2 linked regions of the Homo sapiens genome follow. The protein of the gene in region 1 interacts with the protein of each later gene in a biochemical or structural test. Each region holds a gene or a part of one and is shown in the gene's direction. Other genes may lie near its edges.

Region 1 (3,807 bases):
AGATACATAAAGACATACAAGAAGACACACGTAGCTAGCAGACTTGTGTGTTGATTCCCTCAGGCACACACACTAACACACCCACTCATGAGTGCAACCCCTCCCAGAGAAGACACACCACAGAAATACCAGCTCACATACAGCTCACTCCCTGCTTGCAGATCCACAACCACACACATGCCCACGGACACCTGCACATGCAGACACATACGGGGATGTGCATGCCATGCACAGGGGAGCTGATGGGGCAACAAGTTGGTGCTGGGAAGGCAGCTGGCAGGAAAGGTGCAGACAGAGAGTAGAGAGGGAATAAAAGGCAACCTAGAGGCCCAGCCAGGGCTATCTCTTCCAGATTTCTCCCTCCAAGGTGGGGAGGGGTGCGGATGGGGAGGGGAGGGCTGGAGAAGCCGGCCAGCTGGGGGCGGGGCTGAGGGCGGGGCCAAGAGCCCGGGCTTACCCAGATGTTAGTCACTAACGTCCTTCCGTTCTCTCGTCTCTCTTCCCCCACCCTTCCCTTCCCTTCTCCCCTCTCCCAGTGCCCCCACTCCCAACTCCCGCCCCAAGCCGCCCACCAGCCCCCTTCCCCTCCGGCCGGAGCCTGAACCGAGCCCGGCTGGCTGTGCTGCGCGGTGCCGCCGGGAAAGATGGTCGTGGCGCTGCGGTACGTGTGGCCTCTCCTCCTCTGCAGCCCCTGCCTGCTTATCCAGATCCCCGAGGAATGTGAGTAGCTGAAGGGAGCCTGGGCGCCTACCTTCGCCGCTATGTTGGGCCCCTCTTTATCTTCTACCTCCTCACCTTCTCCCTGTTCCGGACCCTGACTCCTCTCCCTGGCCTTTCCTGGGCACAGGGTGGGCAGGAGATAGCCAGGACGTTGGGTACCCCCGGAGAGAAGGGCAGGGTAGAAGGTGCGGGGCGTGTCAGGACCATGGACAGGGACAGGCGCGGCCGCCGGGGCGATTTCAGCACCAGGGACAGCGAACCTGGAGCAGGGCCCCGAGGTCTTGGGCCTCCTCCATGCTCTCCTTAGCCCGCCCCATCTCTGCCCGCCCCACTCCGACTCCTCCGCTTCCATCCCCCACCACAGGGGTGTGGCAGCAGGAGAATGGGGTCGTCCCCAGCCCTCAGCTGGCTTGTGCAAAGGCCTGTGTTCAAGTCTTGTCCCCATTTCTCTTTCCCCTCCTGGGCCCTTGGTCACCCTGTCTCTGAACTGAGACAGGAAAAGGTGGCTTGAAAAACCCTGGTCCCAGCCCAGCAGCCTTCTGGACCCTTTTTTGTGTGTAGTTATTTGGTGGGGGTGGGGGCAGGGCTGCTGGAGCATGTGTCTATGGTTGTAACATTTGTTGGGGGCACAAGCAGGTGAGTGGATGTTGGGGAGTGTGGCCGTAGGGTTGTGATTAAGCATGGATACACTGTGTATGTCTGTGTGTTCTTGTGATTGACTGAGCGTAGATATTCGTGAATGTGATTTTGACTTCCTTACATGGGTGACTGTGTGAGTCACTCTGTTACTTACTGGCCAGGCTTGTGGAGGTCGGGAGGTATTTGACCACGACATTTGATTGCATTGGGTCATGTGTATGTGTGAGTGGGGCTGAATGTAAGTACACACTTGCGTGTGGGGGGTGTTACCGTGATGGTGTTTTCTCCTGTAAGTAGCTGTCAGGCCGTGTGAGGGGCATGTCACAGGGTATCATGTGTGAGGGCATTTGTGTCTCTTGAGCTACCAGGCTCCAGTCCCTTCCCAGCCTCACCTTGACACCTTTGTCTCTGGGCCTGGACAAGGAGGAGGCCAGTGTCACTGAGAGACGAGTTGGCGGATAGGGGTTGGGAAGACTGTCTGTGCCAGCAGTGGGACAGGGGCTGCGAGAGAGAGGCTGGGGAGGCACCTGGCGTTGGGAGGCAGTGAGGGCTTGGAGGAGGTAAAGGGGCTGGCCCCTTAGACACATACATGGAGGGCCAGGGCCAGGCAGACTCCCTTGGTACAGATGCACATGGACACATGCACACAGGTGCATGAAGACAAGGCAGGTGCAGGGATGAAGGAGCAGAGCCGCTGAGAGGCCACACAGGTGGAAACACACACCAGTGAGGCTTTTAGACCCAGAGGACACAGAGGTGGATACACAATATAACACTGTACAGTGGAATGCAAGCCGTGCATTCTCTACAGAAAGATGGGAGTGGGGAGAGAGAACTAGGCCAAAAGGCCATGGCAGCTCCAAGGCTGCCCTGGTCACTGACCAGCACTTGTTCTTGACCCTGATACGACACAGTGGGCAGTGGCAGGCAGCCGGCCCTCCCTGTTGGAACCTGTCTTCCATCTCTCCCTCCCCAGCCACTCCAGCCCCCTTTGTCTCTTTTCCTGCTTCCTCCACCTAGTTGGCTTTCTGCATCCTGTCATCCCTGTCACCATCTCCCTCCCCAGCTCAGGGCCCTCTGCAGTGTCCCCAGGGAGCCCCCTCCTCCCTCCCTGGACCTTCACACTGAGGTCTTCTGCAGAGACAAAGCTTTCAGAGGCAGCCTGCTGCTCCCTCCCTCCCTCTTCTCCCTTCCTCGAGGCCGCCCTGGCCAGTGCTCTGCAGAGTCCTGGGGCTGGGACAGCAGCTCTGGCCTCTGCCCCAGAGAGCTTGGTGGCTGTCTGGGAGGAAGGAGGGAGAAGAGGAGGGCTGGCGCCAACCCCGCAGGCTATGGAAACTCAGAGGCAGCAGGGCCTTTGGGATAGTTTTCAGGGGGAGGGGGCAGCAGGGCTCTGAAGGCTGGGCCCTGGTAATTGAAAACACTCAGCTGTGCTAATTGGATTAGGAGGGAAGCAGGCTGGAGCAGGGGACGGTGCCTTCCAAGGCATCCTGAATGGGTGGGGTCAGTTCTGCAGGCCCTGCCAGGCCCTGCCAGGGGGCTGCAAGGACACTCCTTGTTAAAGGCAAGAATTTCTCTCTCCCTGTCTGCTAGAGCTGGAGGCATGGCCTGGCTGCCTCTGGGCTACATGCCCTGTGTGTCTATCCAGTGGAGCTCCTCTCCCTGGGCATCTCTCTGTCCCATCTCCCTGGGCTTGACCTGCCACTGCTCCAGCCCAGCGTGTGCCCCCTTGTTGCCACTGCCAGGGCCTCCTCTCCTGCCATTCCCTCTCCACGGGGGGGCTGCAGGAGCTTACTATGTCCCCTGCCATCTGCCCCACTCTGGGGCTGCCTGTCAGTATTTCTCTCCATTCCCTCCCTTGCTGCCTGCCTGGATTTCTCAGATGAAGGACACCATGGTAAGTTGGGGAGGGGTGAGAGTGTTTCCCAGAAGGCCAAGGAGAAGGGTAAGGAGGCCCTCAGCTGAGCCTGCACCCCCGCCCTCCTGAGTGCCGGGGCCCTGCTCGGCTCTCCCTGAGCACCATGTGCTTCTCTCACCTGTGTGGGGCTGGCTTTGTTCTGTCTCTGCCCCAGCCTGGGTACTCTGTCACCCTCACTGTTCCTCTCTGCCATTCTCTCTGGTCCCTTCTCCCCTGTCTGGGGTTTGTCCTTCTTGGTTTCTGTGTCTTGGCTTTTGTTGCCCCCGCTTCTTTCTGTCATACCCTTTTTGTCTTTCTCAGGCATCTCTTTGTAACTTACGTGGCTGTCCCCTCTCTCCCTCTTTTCATGTCCCACAAGCCTCTTTTGTTCTTCCCCTCCGTTCGTCCCCCTGTGGCCATGGGGCCTCCAGGGGCTCTGGACCCTGCTTCCCTCACGATGGGACAGGTGCTGAGGCTATGACACCAGCCAGGCAGCACCCTCACCACCGCTCTCTCCACCCTGTCTTCAGTGATGGAGCCACCTGTCATCACGG
Region 2 (3,807 bases), on another chromosome or scaffold:
AATCTCACTCTGTTGCCCCGGCTGGAGTGCAATGGTGCAATCTCAGCTCACTGCAACCTCTGTCTCACAGGTTCAAGCAATTCTCCTGCATCAGCTCCCCGAATAGTTGGGATTACAGGCACATGCTACCACGCCCTGCTAATTTTTGTATTTTTAATAGAGACAGGGTTTCGCCATGTTTGCCAGGCTAGTCTCGAACTCCTGAACTCAAGTGATCCACCCGTCTTGGCCTCCCAAAGTGCTGGGATTACAAGTGTGAGCCACCACGCTCAGCTTGCAGCCTTCCCCCATCCCTTTTGGGTGAGTGGGAAGAGGGGGAAGAACAGGTCAGTCCTGGGCATTTAATAAACAGACTTCTAGAGCTTTAGGGAGCCTCTGGCCTCCCTGCACCCTTCAGATGAAGAAACAGGCCCAGATCAGGAGTTAATTTGGAATTTTAGGATTTACTTTAAGCAAATGCTCTGTATACCTGAGTTGTCATTTCTAATGTATTCAACCCTCTTTGGCATTAAATATGATAGAAGCCATGTATTTGAAGGATGGTAGCATTTTTTAAAGTTTAACATTATATATCATGGGATTTTAAATTAGACATCTATGTATATGTAAATAGTCGAACTTGTCTGGGACTCGGTTTAGATGATGTTCAACAAATGTCCACAGCAAGTTCGACTATCACTGCTTTTCTGTTTACAAGACAGTCGTGAGACTAAGCAGCTCAGGACTCCTGTAATGCACAACAGAGGCTTGAAAATGTGAAATCTTTGCTGTGACCTAGGGTCGGGATTCTACCTTTGCTGTATCAGAATGTCCCATTTCTGGAGGTCTATAAGATGCAGGTTCCTCTGGGCACCCCTGTGCATTGACACCCTTCCGTCCCAGAAGTCTGCCTTGCCTGTTTTCCTGCCTTTCCTAGGATTTCTTTGTCCCTGTTCCTAGTAAGTCAGACCCCTGGGCCAGCTGGCTGAGAGGCAGAGGCAGGCAGCCAGAGGAGGCTCAGGTGTGGCACTGGATGCTTTAGTCTTCTGCATGAGCACACCTGACCGGCAGCGATGCACCCACCGCACTGTTCCCTGGGGGGCTGTGGGCTCCCATGGTTCTGTGTGTGCTGGCCATAACCCGCCCTGCTGAGTTTCATGCAGGAGAGCATCCTGGAGTACAAAGGAGTAGGAGTGAGATTTTCTAAGATTTGAAGGTAGAACCCTGAATCTGCTCAAATTTATATTAAAAATAAGTCGTTCATGGCTTTGAGATAATAGCCTCAGTTAGTAACAAGTTATTTGAGTGCAAAAAAAGATGTTGCCCAGTGGTTGGACTGAGCAGATGTCCTGGTTTCCTGGGGACTCTGCTAGACCATGTGATGAACGACAGCCAAAAGCTGTTGCCCTTTTGAGTGAGTTTCTCATGAGTGTTGAGCCTCTCTCTCTCTCACGCAGGTGGTAAAGACTATCGGCCTCCGGGAAGTGTGGTACTTTGGCCTCCACTATGTGGATAATAAAGGATTTCCTACCTGGCTGAAGCTGGATAAGAAGGCAAGTCAGGATTAACTATTTACAGGCTGTGGATTGGGTGTTGGTCTGCTTCATCGATAAGGAAACTGGAGCAACTCACCCTGTCTTTTGTTTTCTGTTCCTTTTTGTTTGTGTAAAAGTTTTTACAGACAAAAAGGTTGCAGGTTTCCAGTAAATGGAGATATCGATTGGAAATCAGATCTGGCATTTCTCCATAGTGCTCACTCATTGGAGCATATGATGGTTAATTGCATAGCTTTTAGTTGACCTTAGTTTTTTCAATGAGATTGTTAATCTTATAAACTGTGAATCATCCACCATCTTGTAAGAACCTGTTATTGCTTTGTTTGAACCTGTGACAGATTATCTTCCAACTTTAAAGAGTGGATAATTCCATTAACCAACCAAAAAGAAAAGTAGTAAGATAAACATTTTCTTCAAACTCTGAAAATTATCCTTTTTTTTTTTTTTGAAACCCCCACTGTCCTCCCAAGTCACAGCAACAAGTTAAAAAGATGATGGGAGGTGGGGAAGAGTGGAGGAGCAGGAGGAATTCTTAACAGTAAGTTTCGGGGTCCAGGGCCCGATTGGCATGTGGCCCCATTCCAGGTCACTGGGGTCATTTCCAAATTTGAGTTCTCCAGGATTGATAGCATCATCCCATGAGGACTGGGGCTTAGTGAGGCAGTAGCTTTGATTTCCAGCTGAGCACAAGAGTGTGATAGTACTTGTTTGTTTTTTGTTGTTGTTGTTTTGAGATGGAGTCTTGCTCTGTCGCCCAGGCTGGGGTGCAGTGGCACGATCTTGGCTCACTGCAACCTCCACCTCCTGGGTTCAAGTGATTCTCCTGCCTCAGCCTCCCAAGTAGCTGGGACTACAGCTGCATGCCATCATGCCCGGCTAATTTTTTTGTATTTTTAGTAGAGATGGGGTTTCACCATGTTGGTCAGGCTAGTCTCGAACTCCTGACCTCGTGGTCCGCCCACCTCAGCCTCCCAAAGTGCTGGGATTACAGTCGTGAGCCACCATGCCTGGCCTGTTTTTTTGTTTTTGTTTGTTTGTTGTTGTTTTTTAAGAAGAGACAGGGTCTTGCTCTGTCACCCAGGCTGGAGTGCAGTGGCGCCATCATAGCTCACTGCAGTCTCGAACTCCTGAGCTCCAGGGTTCCTCCTGCTCAGCTTCTTGAGTAACTGGGACTATAAGCATGCATCACCATCCCCAGCTAACTTTTTTTTAAAAAATGTTGTAGAGATGGGATCTCTTCTACGTTGCCCAGGCTGGTCTTAAACTCCTGGGCTCAAGTGATCCTCCTGCCTTGGCCTCCCAAAGCACTGGGATTATAGGCATGAGCCACCATGTCTGGCCTGTGGTAGCACTTTTGACTAACCTTTTTTTGTCTGGAGTGCTAAAAAGATGACTTTAAGAATAAATATCTCCTGAAAACTGGCTTGAGGGCCCCATTGAGTCTTGGTTAGAAGCCTGTGTTGGGGACAGTGGGCCTTCGTCTTCCGGATTTGTGTGGAGAGTGTGGCTTGTTTCGTGCAGGTGTCTGCCCAGGAGGTCAGGAAGGAGAATCCCCTCCAGTTCAAGTTCCGGGCCAAGTTCTACCCTGAAGATGTGGCTGAGGAGCTCATCCAGGACATCACCCAGAAACTTTTCTTCCTCCAAGTGAAGGAAGGAATCCTTAGCGATGAGATCTACTGCCCCCCTGAGACTGCCGTGCTCTTGGGGTCCTACGCTGTGCAGGCCAAGTTTGGGGACTACAACAAAGAAGTGCACAAGTCTGGGTACCTCAGCTCTGAGCGGCTGATCCCTCAAAGGTGAGCACAGGATGACCCGGCCTGGGCAGGAGCAGTCATGCCGTCCTCGGCAGGGAGAAGTGATTGCCTTAGAAGCACAGTTTAAAAACACAAGGACTTCGCCAGTGTCAAGTGCTCCTTCATGCTAGTCATTAAGTCACTGACCAGCGACCTGAAACATAGCCAGGGAAGGCGAGCTGCCATTCCTCATGGAAACTAAAGCGTGGCCGTGTCCTGTGGGACATGGCATAGCAAACTTCTCGACCTGACTGCTCAGCTCCTCCTGGGGTATGATAGGTTGCCCCTGTGAAATCTGTTTTTATTTAGTAATGGTCACAAAAATTACCCCATTTGGAAGAAGAGGCCACTTAAAATACCTCTTAGTTTTTCCAGCAGAACTGAGTTCTTGTTCAAAATGCTAAGTCTTCCAGATTAACTGTCATAAATAGAAATGCTGCACATCAGGAAATAGAAACCAAAGCTCTTTGGGATTGATT

Evidence for each region.
Region 2: the proteins of L1CAM (region 1) and EZR form a complex in vitro, tested with the Homo sapiens proteins (one study listed by BioGRID).

Annotation. Positions count from the first base shown.
Region 1 is NC_000023.11:153,872,674-153,876,480, reverse strand, and holds part of L1CAM (neural cell adhesion molecule L1 isoform 1 precursor), read left to right. Parts: intron 1-466; exon of another isoform or gene 467-536; 5' UTR 537-644; coding exon 645-720; intron 721-3,238; coding exon 3,239-3,253; intron 3,254-3,783; coding exon 3,784-3,807. UniProt on the Homo sapiens protein: Neural cell adhesion molecule involved in the dynamics of cell adhesion and in the generation of transmembrane signals at tyrosine kinase receptors.
Region 2 is NC_000006.12:158,784,833-158,788,639, reverse strand, and holds part of EZR (ezrin), read left to right. Parts: intron 1-1,436; coding exon 1,437-1,532; intron 1,533-3,056; coding exon 3,057-3,331; intron 3,332-3,807. UniProt on the Homo sapiens protein: Probably involved in connections of major cytoskeletal structures to the plasma membrane. In epithelial cells, required for the formation of microvilli and membrane ruffles on the apical pole. Along with PLEKHG6, required for normal macropinocytosis.